Linked DNA regions of Homo sapiens: region 2 is linked to region 1. The links come from fine-mapping of genetic effects on gene expression. Tissue or cell type: whole blood. Region 1 holds a variant in brackets; the other region holds the start of a gene. All regions are shown on one strand. Distances are between the middles of the regions.

Region 1 (8,106 bases):
AACCTGGAGGCGAAAGTTGCCATGAGCCGAGATTGCACCACTGCACTCCATCCTGAGCGACAGGCGAGACTCCGTCTCAAAAAATAAAAATAAAAATAAAAATAAATAAATAAATAAATAATATATAAATAAAATAACACCTTTAGTAAAATACAATTCACATACCATAATGTTCATCCTTTTAAAGCATGCAATTCAGTAGTTCTTAGTATATTGATGAAGCTGTGCAACTATCACCACTATCTAACTCCAGAAGATTTTCATCACCCTAAAAGGAACTGTGATACCCATTAGCAATTATTCTCCATTTCCTCCTTCCCACAATCCCTGGCAACCACAGATTTATTTTCTGTCTCTGGATTTTCCTATTTCGGGGATTTCATGCAAAATGAACCATACAATATGTGGTCTTTCGTGGCTGCTTCTTTTACTTAGCATAATGTTTTAAAGGTTCATTCATGATGGTTCAAGGTAGCATTTGTCAGGCTTCATTTCTTTTTATGGCTGAATAATATAATAATATGTATACATATATCTATTTTGTTTACCCTTTCAATTGACAGACATTTGGGTTTTTTCCATCTTTGGCTATTATGAATAATGCTGCTATCAACATTCATGTATAAATATATTTATGAATAATGCTGCTATCAACATTCATGTATAAATATATGTATAGAGGTATGTTTTCTTGAGCTTATCATGGATATATACCAGTGGGTAGAATTGGTGAGTCATATGGTATAACTCTATATTTAACTTTTTGAAGAACTGCCAAACTTGTTTTTGCAAAGCTACTGTGCAATTTTACATTCCTGCCAGCAATATACAGGCATACCTCAGAGATATTGTGGGGTAGGTTCCAAACCACCACAATAAAGCGAATACCACAATAATGCAAATCACGCAACGCTTTAGCAGCCCTATGCATATAATAGTTATATACTATACTGCAGTGTATTAAGTGCACGTTATGTCTCAAAAATGTAGATACCTTAATCATAACACATGTTATCACTAAAAAAAATGATGATAGTCATCTGAGCCTTCAGTGAGTCATAATCTTTTTGCTGGTGGAGTGGCCCGCCTCAATGTTAATGAACCTGACTGATCAAGGTGGTGGTTGCTGAAGGCTGGAGTGGCTGTGGCAATTTCTTTTTTTTTTTTTTGAGACAGAGTCTCGCTCTGTCGCCCAGGCCTGAGTGCAGTGGCGCTATCTCAGCTCACTGCAAGCTCCGCCTCCCGGATTCACGCCATTCTCCTGCCTCAGCCTCCCCAGTAGCTGGGACTACAGGCGCCCACCACTGCGCCCAGCTAATTTTTTGTATTTTTAGTAGAGATGGGGTTTCACCGTGTTAGCCAGGATGGTCTCGATCTCCTGACCTCGTGATCCACCCACCTCGGCCTCCCAAAGTGCTGGGATTACAGGCGTGAGCCACCGTGCCTGGCCGGCAATTTTTTAAAATCAGTTGGCTTCATCAATTGATTCTTCCTTTTATGAAAGATTTCTCTGTAGCATGTAACGCCATTTGATAGCATTTTATGCACAGTAGAACTTATTTCAAATTGGTGTCAATCTTCTCAAACCCTGCCACTGCTTTATCAACTTACTTTGTTATATCCTAAATCTTTTGGTTTTTGTTTGTTTGTTTTGAGACAGAGTCTCGTTCTGTCAGCCAGGCTGGAGTGCAGTGGCACAATCTCAGTTCACCGCAACCTCCGTCTCCCAGGCTCAAGCAATTCTCCTGCCTCAGCTTCCCGAGTAGCTGGGATTACAGGCATGTGCTACCACACCTGGCTAATTTTTGTATTTTTAGTAGAGACAGGGTTTCACCATGTTGGCCAGGCTGGTCTCGAACTCCTGACCTCAGGTTATCCACCGGCCTCGGCCTCCCAAAGTGCTGGGATTACAGGTGTGAGCCACCACACCCGGCCTGTTGTCATTTCAACAGTGGTTACAGCATCTTCCCCAGAGGCAGATTCCATCTCCAGAAACCACTTCCTTTGCTCATCCATAAGAAGTGACTCCTCATCTGTGAAAGTTTTATCATGAGGTTGCAGCAATTCTGTGACATCTTCAGGTTCCATTTCTAATTCTAGTTCTGTTCTATTTCCACCATATCTGCAGCTACTTCCTTCCCTAAAGTCTTCCATGAGCGTTGGAATTAATTTCTTCCAAACTCCTGTTAATGTTGACATTTTGACCTCCTTCCACGCATCACAAATGTTCTTAATGGCATCAAGAGTGGTGAGAACCTTTCTAGCAATTTATCAATTTATTTTGCCCAGATCCACCAGAGGAATCACTATATCTGGCAGCTAATAGCCTTTTAAAAATTATTTTGTGTTTATTATTATCATTATCATTATTATTATTATTATTATTATTATTATTATTATTATTATTTTGAGATGGAGTCACACTCTTGTCACCCAGGCAGGAGTGCAGTGGTGCGATCTCGGCTCACTGCAACGTCCGCCTCCCGGGTTCAAGCGATTCTCGTTACTCAGCCTCCCAAGTAGCTGGGATGACAGGCGCCCGCAACCACGCCCAGCTGATATTTGTATTTTTAGTAGAGACGGGGTTTCCCCATGTTGGCCAGGCTGGTCTCGAACTCCCTACCTTGGTTAATCCACCCGCCTTGGCCTCCCAAAGTGCTGGAATTACAGGCGTGAGCCACCACGCCCGGCCGGAAGTGTATTTTTTAAATAATAAGACTTGAAAGTTGAATTTACTCCTTGATCCATGGGCTGTAGAATGGACGTTGTGTTAGCAGGCATGAAAACAGCATTCATCTCCTTGTACGTCTCCGTCAGAGCTCTTGGGTAATCAGGTGCATTGTCAATGAGCAGTAATATTTTGAAAGGAATCTTTTTTTCTGAACAGTGAGTCTCAACAGTGGACTTAAAATACTCAGTAACCTATGCTGTAAAGAGACATGCTGTCACCCAGGCTTGGTGGTTCCACTGAGAGCACAGGCAGAGTAGGTTTAGCATAATTCTTAAAGCCCTAAGATTTTCAGTATGGTAAATGAGCATTGGTCTCAACTTAAAGTCACCAACTGCATTAGCCCCTAACAACAGAGTCAGCCTATCCTTTGAAGCTTTGAAGCCAGGCATTGACTTTTCCTCTCTAGCTATGGAAGTCCTAGGTGGCATCTTCTTCCAATAGAAGGCTGTTTTATCTACATTGAAAATCTGTTTAGTGTAGCCACCTTCATCAATGATCTTAGCTAGATCTTCTGGATAACTTGGTGCAGCTTCTCCATCAGCACTTCCTGCTTCACATTGCACTTTTATGTTACAGAGATGCCTTCTTCCCTTAAACCTCATGAACCAAGAACCAACCTCTGCTAGCTTCCAACTTTTCTTCTGCAATTTCCTCACTTCTCTCATCCTGCATAGGATTGAAGAGAGTTGGGGCCTTGCTCTGGATTCGGCTTTGGCTGAAGGGAGTTCTGTGGCTGGTTTGATCTATACAGACCACTTAAATTTTCCCCATGTCAGCAATAAGGCTGTTTTACTTATCATTCATGTGTTCACTAAAGCAGCACTTTTAATTTCCTTCAATAACTTTTTCTTTCATTCACAACTTGGCAGCTTGTTTGGTGCAAGAGGTCTTGCTTATGGCTTATCTTGGCTTTTGACATGTCTTCCTAACTTTAATCGTCTTTCACTTTTGATTTAAAGTGACAGGCATGCAACTCTTCCTTTTATTTGAAGATTTAAAGGTCATTATAGGGTTGGTTCTTCACTACCCTAATTTAAATATTGTTGTGTTGTCTCAAAGAATTTGGGAGAGGGAGAGAGATGGGAAATGACTGCTCACTGGAGCAGTCAGAACACACACAACATTTATCCATTAAGTTTGTCAACGTATATGGGTTTAGTTTGTGGCACCCCAAAACAATTATAGTAGTAACATCCCGGATCACTGTAACAGATGTAATAATAATGACAATGTCTGAAATATTGTGAGAATTACCAAAACGTAACACAGAGACAAGAAATGAGCACATGCTGTTGGAAAAATGGTCCCAAAATCCTGCTTGACACAGTTGCCACAGACCTTCAATATGTGAAAAACACAATATCTTTGAATTGCGCTAAAGCAAAATGCAATGAAATGAGGGATGTCTGTATAAGACAAAGAGAAAATCATAAAAGCAGCAAGACATGTACAAGGGATCCTCAATAAACTCATATGTCTATGGCCAAGGGTGCCAAGCAGTATTCAATTCAGGGAAGAATAGTCTTCAACAGATGATATGGAAGGACTGTATTTCCACATGCAAGAGTAAAGTTAGACCCTGCTTCACACCGTATTAAAAAAACCCTCACAAGCAATGAACTAAATATAAAAACTAAAATCATAAAATTCTTAGGAGAAAACATAGAAGCAAATCTTCATAATTTTGGGTTTGGTAATAGGCTCTTAGATATGATAGCAAAATCTCTTGCAAAACAACAATGAAAAAACAAAAAGAAACAAAATCCACTGGGAGTAATCTTCATTAAAATCTGAAATTTTGTGTATCAAAGGATATTATCAAGAAAGACAACCTACAGAGTGAAGGAACATTTTTGCAAATCATATAGCTGATAAATTCAGAATATAAAGAACTTCTACAACTCAACAATGAATAGGCAAACAATCCAATTAAAGTATAAGCAAAGGACTTGGATAGACATTTCTCCAAGGAAGGTATACAAATGGCCAGTAAATGCATGAAAAGACGATTCAAGTCATTAGTCATTAGGGAAATGCAAATCAAAAACCCAATGAAATACCACATCACATCTGCTAGGATGGCTATAATTTAGGGGAAAAAAAGCAACATAATAAATGCTGGTGAAAATATGGAGAAATTGGAACCCTCATACATTGTTGGTGGG[A/C]ATGTAAAATTGCACAGACACTGCGAAATACATTTTGGCTATTCCTCAAAAAGCTAAACATAGGATGACGATAGAATTGTTATAACAATTCCATTCCTCGGTAGATACCCACAGTATTAAGCGCAGGGAGTCACACAGATACATATATGCCAAGAATCATTGGTGCATTATTCACAAATCTCAAACGACCCGTGCATTTTTAATATTCGGCCACAAAGAAGTGAAATTCTGACTCATATTACAACATTGATGAAACTTGCCAACAAGGTTTTCAAGGGAAATAAGCTGACTGTAAAGGCCCATTTTGTAGGATTCCACTTATACGAAGTACATGGGACAGACAAATCATAGAGACAGAAAGTAGATTAGAGGCTACCGGTAATGAAAGGAGGGGGGAATGGGAAGTTATTTTACAATGAGTACCGTGTTTTTATTTGTTCTGTTGAAAAATGTTTTGGAAATAAATAGCAGGAAAGGTTGCACAACATAGTCGATGTAATTAATGCTTCTGAACTGTCCACTTAAAAATGGATAAAACAGCATATCTTATGTTGTACATATTTGACTACACAAAAACAAAGTTTAAAAGTACAAAAAACTCTGTTATTAAGAGTCAGTTTCCCAAAGGGATGGAGATGCTGGTAACAGAAGGGAAAGAAATCTCATCAAATAAAAAAAAGCAATGTCCTCTTCAGGAGGTGGCTCAGCTAGTTTAGCTTTACCTTAGCACCATGATGGTTCATTTTATTCAGAAATAGAAACATGGGGCGTTGGGGAGAAGAGGAGATGTGTACCTGCCTCACCTGCCTCCCTGCCCAGAATGCCGACTCCGACTCTTGCTTTCCACTAAGGCTGGGGATTAAATGAAAATTGAGAATCTGGAAACCCCCAGAGATGATGTTTGTCGTTGGAGCTGATTTTATCTCGTCTTAGTAGCGTGACCTCCTCTTCAAACTCAGGATGCAATTATGGTCAATCTCATCAGTGTGCAGTAATTGCTCAGCCCCAATACCAGATTAGCAGGAAGTTCTGTTATTTTCCTTTTGAGGACGGGCTCCTACTGAACTGTCCTAGAATCTACCACCATTCAACTCACACCACTCAAAAGACCCAGGGAACGGCCAGGCGCGGTGGCTCCCGCCTGTAATCCCAGCACTTTGGGAGGCCGAGGCGGGCGGCTTCGAGGATCAGGAGGATCACGAGGCGGATCACGAGGTCAGGAGATCGAGACCATCCTGGCTAACACGGTGAAACTCCGTCTCTACTAAAAAAAAAAAAAAAAAATTTAGCCCGGCGTGGTGGCGGGCGCCTGTAGTCCCAGCTACTCGGGAGGCTGAGGCAGGAGAATGGCGTGAACCCGGGAGGCGGAGCTTGCAGTGAGCCGAGATCGCGCCACTGCACTCCAGCCTGGGCCAGAGCGAGACTCTGTCTCAAAAACAAAAACAAAAACAAAAACAACAAAAAAAGACCCAGGGAACTAGGCCAGTCCAGCTCCCAACCCCAAGCAGGGAGCAACTTGCTCAGTCCACGTTGTGATAGCTCCTCGCTGCCACAAGGTGGTGATGTTGCATCACACACGCGCATGATGGGCGCGCAGGCGCCAATGCTCCCAGGACCTGCTGTTCCATTCCTAAATGAAAGTTGTTCCCAGGATCTGGACTCACAAGACAAGGCAGCCTGTTCCCTGCTGGGGAGCTCAGGGGCAAGAGGGCATCTCGGAGGGAGGGCACATTCTCACCTCTGAAGACAAGGAGAACATCATCAGCACATAGACCAATCCCAGCAGTGCACCTTAGGATGGGGGCCACTGTGAGTTACAGCAAAATGAACGAATGAATGAACCAATAAATGTCTGAGAGGGAAAGTCCCAACGACCCTCAGGAGGTGCAATCAAGAGTTGCAGTTATTTTCGTTAGGAACGTTCTAAACCACAGGGGAAACCTTCCTTCCTTCTGCTCTATCGTTGGAGTGGGACATCAGTGTTTCTGGTCTCTATTTCCGGGACACCAGAAATCAAGGTATAGAGTTTGGAGAGGGGTCTTGGGGAGGTCACAGTGGCAGGTGACTGCCAAATGAGGGGGCAGAAGCCAGCAAACACTAGAAAAAAAGACAATCGGCCTAAACTGTTCACCAGCACCGCCCTCCCAACCCCCAACTGGCTCTGTTTCCAAGACTTTCCATTTTCTAGCCATTTCCTTGTCCTTAAACCACTTTCCTTTAATCGAACTTTTTCTTTGGAGCCATGCACCCAAGGACTATGGCCTGTCCTTGGGAATTATAGGGAATTCCTGTTGTATGTGAAATTTTCCACCGATTTAAGAATCTTTGGAAAGCTTTACTACAATATCCTGGTCCATTGTCAGTTTTGATTTTTTCTGGAACTCCCATGACAGCAAAACAAGACAATAAACGTTTTTTAACATGGGAAGTACTTTCTCCTGTCTGGCAAGCTGCCCATATGAAATGTGAATAAGTATCAACTGTTACATGAACATATGACAATCTTCCAAATGAAGGGACATGCGTGACATCCATTTGCCATAATGCATTAGGACACAGACCTCTGGGATTAACTCCTGCCTCTTGAGTGGGCAGGTGTAAGACTTAACACTGGGGAGAAACCTTGGACAATACCTGGCTTTCCTAGGCAGAGGACCCTGCGGCCTTCCACAGTGTTTGCGTCCCTGGGTACTTGAGATGAGGGAGTGGTGATGACTCTTAAGGAGCATGCTGCCTTCAAGCATTTGTTTAACAAAGCACATCTTGCACCGCCCTTAATCCATTTAACCCTGAGTTTGACACGCACATGTTTCAGAGAGCACGGGGTTGGGGGTAACGTCATAGATTAACAGAATCTCAAGGCAGAAGAATTTTTCTTAGTACAGCACAAAATGGAGTCTCCTATGTCTACTTCTTTCTACACAGACACAGTAACAATCTGATCTATCTTGCTTTTCCCCCCACCGCCCTCCCAACCCCCAACTGGCTCTGTTTCCAAGACTTTCCATTTTCTAGCCATTTCCTTGTCCTTAAACCACTTTCCTTTAATCGAACTTTTTCCTTGGAGCCATGCATATCCGGTTTCCCCCAATGGTGGCATCTCACAAAGGACGGTCCAGTATCCCAACGGCGTGTTGCGTTCTGCGGGACGCAGATTTCCTTCACAGGCACCCCCCGGGTTGCGTTTTTATAGCCACACACCCGCCGCCT
Region 2 (8,106 bases), 58 kb after region 1:
CAAACAAAAAAAGTGGTTAAAATGGTCAATTTTATGTGAGATGTTCTGTACCACAGTAGGAAAAAATGGGATAAAAAAACAATGCAGAGAGTGTGACTAGGGCTTAGTGTGAAGACACGCATCGCGCATGTTGTGTCCAAACGACAACGTGAACCTATCAGTGTGTCTTTACAGCAAAACAAAAAGCACAGAGACACACAAAAGTGGTGCTTATCCCCACCAGGACTGGAATCTTGAGCAGGGCCTGAATGAGCATCTTCCAGGGCCCACTCCTTATCTCCAGCTGTCCAGGAGCACAGGCACAGGGCTGGGGTCTGCAGAATACTGCAAGAAGTGAGGTGGGTGCTGAGGAGTGGGCTCCACCCAGGCCAGGTGCCCTGTGGATGGAAAGGAAAAGAGGCTACATCATTGTGGCTGAAGCTGAGTTGGGGGCAGGCATGGGACTTAACAGAGTGGGGCACTGTCACTCCCCAAGAGGGCAGACAGCTCTGATCACTCCAAACACCCAAAGGTGACTTCAAATCCTTCCCCATTCGCTTGACTTCACTGGACAGCTGGGAACCTGCATCTTTAGTGACTGAATATCCCCACTCTGGTTCCCCAAGGACAGACCCTGAATTGATTCCAGGAATCCACGTGTACAGGTAAGCACTACATTTCCTAGGCTGCCTTGCAGTTGAGATGGCCAGTGAGGTGTCAGCAGAAGTCACAGGCGGGGCTTCCAAGAAATACCCTCAAGAAGCGAACTCAGCTGGGGCTGGGAGGTGTGGGAGCTAGCTCCCTCTGGCTTTGTCGCTGGCTCTCTTCCCAGCTGGACTGTGGGATGATGTTAGGGCTCAGTCAGCCTTCTTGTCGTCCTGGGGATGGAGGCTATGCACCAAGGGCAGGGAGCAGAAATACCAAAGGAACCTGGATTCCCGGGGCTCTCTTGGGGCTGCAAGATGGTGGTGGATTGGCAACTGCAGATATTTGTGTTTATGTATTTTCCATGCAGAAACATCTACAATGGCACTGAGTCTGTAGCGAGGGCCATGCACTGTCTGTCTGAAAGTGCTCCAGGCACAGGCTTTGTGTCCAAGTACCTTGCTGTGTTTAAGGTACATCACAGCACCGGAGAATGTGGGAGAGGTCACATTCATCCCTTCAAAGCGCAGGGAGGTTCCTATTCTGACACCAGCAACACTTACAAGAATGAACCTAAAGCTGGGCAGTGAGGAAGGAAAGGAAAAAGAAAGTTTATGAATACAGGTAGTATTGTTTGAACCGGTAAGTTGCACTATAAATCACAATAAAAGATAGTCTGTATATCACTAAAACAGAAGAGTTGGCCGCCCTGAGGATGAGGCCTTTGGGTCTCCAGGCATTTGCCAGCTCTCCTAGCCTAGGGGCAGGGGCGCCTGCACAGCCCTCTGCTTTTCCTAGAATTCTCAGCAGCGAGCATGTGTCAGGGAGAGACATGGTTGTCTTAGCACTGAGGCTGAAATCCTGGATGTTCTTGGGAGGGCAGTGATTGTGAAGAACAAGTTACTTGTCTAGTTCCTGGGGGTCACTCCTCAAAGCCTCCCGATGAGGCAAGTTTACAGGATCCATGCTCCCTGAGCCAGCAGTGACACCCACACTTGGCAGTGAGAAGTGGGGCTGTAACTTACAGGGTGAGCCAAAATGGCGGGTCTGGAAAGGGATTATCTTAAAGGAAAAAGAGAGGAGAGTGAGTGACTTCATCATTAGCTGGGAGGCTCTACAGTGCCCTGGTGGACAGTCACTGCCTGGAGGTGACTTTGTAGAAAGCAAACTTTGGCTATCACAATGCATAGGGAGGCCTGGCAAAGCCCAGGGAAGCAGAAGGCCCAGCACTTTGAGAGGCTGAGGCAGGAGATCACTTGAGCCTAGGAATTTGAGACCAGCCCGGGCAACATAGTGAGATCCCATCTCTACCAAAGATTTTTAAAAATTAGCCAGGTGTGGTGGTGCATGCCTGTAATCCCAGCTACTCAGGGGGCTGAGATTAGAGGATTGCTCCACTCCAGACTGGGTGACAGAGTTAGGCTCTGTTTCAAGAAAAAAGAGAAAGTAAAAGAAAAAAAAGAAAGCCTGTTTGGCTGAACTGTGGTTCAAAAAAAAAAAGAGTGGATGGTGGTAGATGCAGTCAGGGAGGTGGGAGGGGTCTGACCTGACCCCTCCTAGGGTAGGGGTGAGGATTTTATTCTAAGCCTGACAGAAAGCCCTTGGAGCCTCTTAAGCTGGAGAGTAATATGGAATGATCGCCAGTTGTGGTGGCTCACACCTGTAATCCCAGCATTTTGGGGGGCCGAGGTGGGGGGATCACCTGAGGTCAGGAGTTTGAAACCAGCCTGGTCAATGTGGCAAAACACCATCTCTACTAAAAAATACAAAAATTATCCGGGTATGGTGGCATGTGCCTGTAGTCCCAGCTACTTGGGAGGCTGAGGCAGGAGAATCACTTGAACCTGGGAGGTGGAGGTTGCAGTGAGTCAAGATTGTGCCATTGCACTCCAGCCTGGGCAACAGAGCAAGACTCTGTCTCAAAAAAGAAAAAGAAAATAGAGTGATATGAAATGATTTACCTTTGTAAATGTTGCCAGTGTTTCTGCAGACTGGGGGAACACCTTATCCTGATTCCCAAAGTGATTGCCCGAAATCATGTTGTTTGTATGAAATGCTTCATTTTCACTCCTCTAGACAGGGCATCCATTCTTCAGTGTCCCCAGCTCACCACTCCCTTTTGTATTCCTTGGCCCAGTTTACATGTTTACATCATATGGCTGGTGGCATGTGAGTTTGTGACTTCTGTCTCCATCCCCCTAGCGGTTAAGAATAAGAATCTGAGGTCCAAGAGCTGAGTGACTAACTCAGCTCTATTTGAGTGACTCAGCTCTATTTTCTATACTATTTGAAATAGTGGGGAAAGACTCCAACACAGGCTCTTGACTTGCAGTTGTGTCACTGTTCACTTGACCCCAGGCACTTCCCTTGGCACCCCATCCACAGCAGTGACAGTTCTCTCCCTTTTTAGAAACTATGCACCTACCCAGGCCTACAGGAAAAAAGAGCCATGTGGTTATTAAACTGTATATACCAGGTCAAGTGGGCTCTGATATTTTTGACGTGTACATTATTTAATTTTAAGAAGTTATTTTATAATGTTTTCACTTTTTTTCCTGTGCCTCTTTCCATGTGGACAGTCCCCGTGCTGGGCATTCTAACAGACAACATCTCACAGTGTATTCAGTGTGTATTCATGCGGCAGCTAAACCATTGCCTGCATACCCTTTTGTGCCCATTTTCCTATTTCTGGGACCTTAGGTTATTTCCATTTTTTTCCCAAAACTATAAACAGCACAGCTAGAAGTATATATTATTTAATACTTGTTCCTTTTCATGTATTTCTTTGGCTGTGATCTTCGGAGATTAAAGGTTAAACTGATTTATTTTTTCAGAGATTAAAGGTTAAAGAAGCTGATTTTTGGCCGGGCGCAGTGGTTCATTAATCCCAGCACTCTGGGAGGCCGAGGCAGGCGGATCACCTGAGGTCAGGAGTTTGAGACCAGCCTGACTAATATGGTGAAACTCCATTTCTACTAAAAATACCAAAAATTAGCTGGGTGTAGTGGCACGCACCTGTAATCCCAGCTACTCGGGAGACTGAGGCAGGAGAATAGCTTGAACCCGGGAGGCAGAGGTTGCAGTGAGCTGAGATTGTGCCATTGCACTCCAGCTTGGGCAATAAGAGTGAAACTCCATCTCAAAAAAAAAAAAAAAAGAAAAAGAAAGGAAGAAGAATGAGTTCAAGACCAGCCTGGCCAATATGGTGAAACTCCCACCTGTACTAAAAATACAAAAATTAGCCGGGCATGGTGGCAGGCGCCTGTAATCCCAGCTACTCAAGGGGCTGAGGGGGGAGAATCGCTTGAACCTGGAAGGCAGAGGTTGCAGTGAGCTGAGATTGCCCCACTGCACTCCAGCCTGGGCAACAGAGTGAGACTCTTCTAAAAAAAAAAGAAAAAAGAAAAAGAGGGCCGGGAGCAGTGGCTCACGCCTGCAATCCCAGCACTTTGGGAGGCCCAGGCGGGCGGATCACGAGGTCAGGAGTTTGAGACCAGCCTGACCAACATGAAACCCGTCTCTACTAAACATACAAAAAATTAGCCAGGCGTGGTGGCACGCCCCTATAATCCCAGGTACTCGGGAGGCTGAGGCAGGAGAATTGCTTGAACCCGGGAGGCGGAGGTTGCAGTGAGCCGAAATCGTGCCACTGCACTCCAGCCTGGGCGACAGAGTGAGACTCCGTCTCGGGGAAAAAAAAAAAAGCTGATTTTTTTTTTTCCCAGAGAGATTATAGGTTAGAGAAGCTGATTTTTCATTTTTTCCACAGTGCCACAATGTCCTTGACAAAGGCAGCGCAAACCAGTGGTTCAGCCGCGCCTTCAGGGCAGCGCTGGGCAGCGCACGGGCCTAAACCCCGGTACCCCCTTTACAGACTGACCTTGGGCCCGCTGATTCCTACTTGTAATATGACTATGATACCAGCACCCGCTCCATAGGGTTGAGGGCAGATTCCACCAGACGATTCGACACCGGGACCCTGCGTGTGGGCGCGTTCCGTGAGAGCCAAGCACGATCCTATGTACAGAATGGTCCCTGGCCCGGGCGCGACGACCCACAGGGCCATATGGCCGGCCAGCTGAAATCCCTGAGAGCGTTCTGGCCGTCCAGTCCGGGAACTGTCCTTCCCAAGTCCCCCGGTCCCCGACAGGGGATCACTCACCTTCCGACCAGCGCACTCCCCAGTAGGAGCCGCAGGACTGGGACCCGCGTCTCCCCAAGGACCGCTCTAGGAGTTGCGCCAGGTTCCGGCCGCACTGGACCGCGCACTCGCTGACGCCTGGAGGGCGGGAGCGCTGCGACTGCGCCCCCGGGGACCACGGACCGGTGCCAACCTAAGCAGCCCGGAACCTGCCCCGCGCCGCGGGACTGCAGGCCTCTTTACGCAGCGCGCCTACCACGCCGAGGCCCCGCCCACTCACCCGCCCCGCCCGTGAGCCCCGCCCACACCCCGCCCCGCCCCCGAGCCCCGCCCACTCCCCGCCCCGGCGGTGCGGTGCCTCGCTCCGCGCCCGTCCGCGCCCAGGCCCCGCCTCCACAGCGGCGTCCCGCCCCACCCACACCTCGCCTCGGCCCCTAAGCTCCGCCCACTCCCCGCCCCTGAGGTCCATCTGGGGCCTCGCCCGGCGATCTGGGACTGGGGAGGACCCTGCTGACTTCCAGGCAGGTGGAAACTGGATTGATAGAAATCCAGCGCGGGGAGGCTGTGCTGAGAGGAGGGACGCCCCTGCCCTGCGCCTCCCGCTCCCCATCTCTGGCTGGTATCCCGGTTACAGAATGAGGGTCCGTGGTGCAACAGAAAGAATGAGCCACTGATACACTCATCAGCTTGCTCGGATCTCCCGGGGAGTTACGCTGGTGAGAGAAACCAGTCCCAAAGGTCACTCACCGACGGCGCCGCTGGTGTACTGGTATTATGCAAGATGCCCTCGCAAAGGTCACGCACGGATGGTTCATTTATCCAAAGACCAAAGGAGAGAAATGCAGGACTCATTAGCAGTGCCCAGGAGATAGGGGGGCGGGTGGGTGTGGCTATAAAAACGCAACCCGGGGGGTGCCTGTGAAGGAAATCTGCGTCCCGCGGAACGCAACACGCTGTTGGGATACTGGATTGTCCTTTGTGAGATGCCACTATCGGGGGAAACCGGATGGCTTCACAGAAAAAGTTCGTTTAAAGGAAAATGGTTTAAGGCCAAGGAAATACCTAGAAAACGGAAAGTCTTGAAACCAGAGCCGGTGGGGAGTTATGGGGGGCGGTGCTGGTGAACAGTTTGGGCCGACTTTTTCCAGCGCTTGCTGGCTTCTGCCACCTCATTTGGCAGTCACCTGCCACTGTGACCTCCCCAAGTCCCTTCTCCAAACTCAATTCCTTGATTTCTGGTGTCCCGGGATGGCCCCACTCCAACAATAGAGCAGAAGGAAGGAAGGTTTCCCCTGTGTTTAGAACGTTCCTAACGAAAATAACTGCAACTCTTGATTGTACCTCCTGAGGGTCGTTGGGACTTTCCCTCTCAGACATTTATTGGTTCATTCATTCGTTCATTTTGCTGTAACTCACAGTGGCCCTCCCCATCCTAAGGTGCACTGCTGGGATTGGTCTATGTGCTGATGATGTTCTCCTTGTCTTCAGAGGTGAGAATGTGCCCTCCCTCCGAGATGCCCTCTTGCCCCTGAGCTCCCCAGCAGGGAATAGGCTGCCTTGTCTTGTGAGTCCAGATCCTGGGAACAACTTTCATTTAGGAATGGAACAGCAGGTCCTGGGAGCATTGGCGCCTGCGCGCCCATCATGCGCGTGTGTGATGCAACATCACCACCTTGTGGCAGCGAGGAGCTATCACAACGTGGACTGAGCAAGTTGCTCCCTGCTTGGGGTTGGGAGCTGGACTGGCCTAGTTCCCTGGGTCTTTTGTAACCTGAATGGTGGTAGATTCCAGGACAGTTCAGTAGGAGCCCATCCTCAAAAGGAAAATAACAGAACTTCCTGCTAATCTGGTATTGGGGCTGAGCAATTACTGCACACTAATGAGATTGACCATAATTGCATCCTGAGTTTGAGGAGGAGGTCATGCTACTAAAATGAGATAAAATCAGCTCCAACGACAAACATCATCTCTGGGGGTTTCCAGATTCTCACTTTTCATTTAATCCCCAGCCTTAGTGGAAAGCAAGAGTCGGAGTCGGCATTCTGGGCAGGGAGGCAGGTGAGGCAGGTACACATCTCCTCTTCTCCCCAACGCCCCATGTTTCTATTTCTGAATAAAATGAACCATCATGGTGCTAAGGTAAAGCTAAACTAGCTGAGCCACCTCCTGAAGAGGTCATTGCTTTTGTTTTTATTTAATGAGATTTCTTTCCCTTCTGCTACCAGCATCCCTATTCCTTTGGAAAACTGCTTCTTCATAATAACATAAAGGTTTTGGATTTTTTGTTTTGTTTTTTGGGTAGCAAAATCTGTATAACATGAAATTTTCTATTTTCACCATTTTAAGTGTACAATTCAGTGGCATAAATTACCTTTAGAGTGCTGTGCAACCATTACAACTATTTATTTTCAAAACGTTTTCATCATCCCAAATAGAAACACTTGGGTCAGGGGCCATAGATCACGCCTGTAATCCCAGCACTTTGGGAGGCAGAGGCATGCAGATCACCTGAGGTCAAAAGTTTGAGACCAGCCTGGCCAACATGGCGAAACCCCATCTCTACAAAAATTTGCCAGGTGGTGTACACCTGTAATCCCAGCTACTCAGAGGCTGAGGCAGGAGAATTGCTTGAACCCAGGAGGCGGAGGCTGCAGTGAGCTGAGATCGTGGCACTGCACTCCAGCCTGGATGACAGAGCGAGACCCTGTCTCAAACAAAAACAAAAACAAATAGAAACACTGCACTCATTGGATAATAAATCCCCATTCTCCCCTCCTTCCACTCCTGGTAGCCTCTAATCTACTTTCTGTCTCCATGAATTTGTCTATTGCATGTATTTCATATAAGTGGAATCCTACAAGATGTGGCCTTTTCACTAAGCTTTTTTTCCTCAAAAACCTTGTTGCTGAGTTTCATCCATGTTGTAGTATGCATCAGAACTTCATTCCTTTTTATGGCCGAATAATAGAAAAATGTGTATACCGCCTGGCCAACGTGGGGAAACCCCATCTCTACTAAAAACACAAAAATTAGCTGGGCATGGTGGTGTGCACCTGTAGTCCCAGCTACTCGGGAGGCTGAGGCAGGAGAATCACTTGAACCCAGGAGGCAGAGGTGGCGGTGAGCTGAGATTGTGTCATTGCACTCAAGCCTGGGCAACAAGAGCAAGACTGACAGAAAGAAAAGAAAGAAGAAAGAGAGAAAGAAAAAGAAAGGAAGGAAGGAAGGAAGGAAGGAAGGAAGGAAGGAAGGAAGGAAGGAAGGAAGGAAGGAAGGGTACCAGGCATTGTTTATCCACTCATCTGTTGTTTGACTATTGTGAATAATATTGCAATGATTA

What was found. PIP is the estimated chance that this variant, and not a neighbour inherited with it, causes the effect.
Region 2: it holds the start of NQO2, and the variant in region 1 is fine-mapped to the expression of NQO2 in whole blood (TOPMed, PIP above 0.99).

Annotation. Positions count from the first base shown.
Region 1 is chr6:3,054,553-3,062,658 of GRCh38, reverse strand. It overlaps LOC124901242 (a long non-coding RNA gene), which reads right to left and starts at 7,571. Exons shown (of 2, transcript XR_007059409.1): 1 at 6,635-7,571; 2 at 5,302-6,160. RefSeq lists an enhancer at 7,332-8,106. The variant A/C (reference allele first, on the strand shown) is at 4,897.
Region 2 is chr6:2,996,766-3,004,871 of GRCh38, reverse strand. NQO2 (N-ribosyldihydronicotinamide:quinone dehydrogenase 2) reads right to left here and starts at 4,978. Exons shown (of 7, transcript NM_000904.6): 1 at 4,787-4,978. NQO2-AS1 (NQO2 antisense RNA 1) reads left to right here and starts at 5,197. Exons shown (of 2, transcript NR_186367.1): 1 at 5,197-5,481. RefSeq lists a silencer at 4,980-5,229.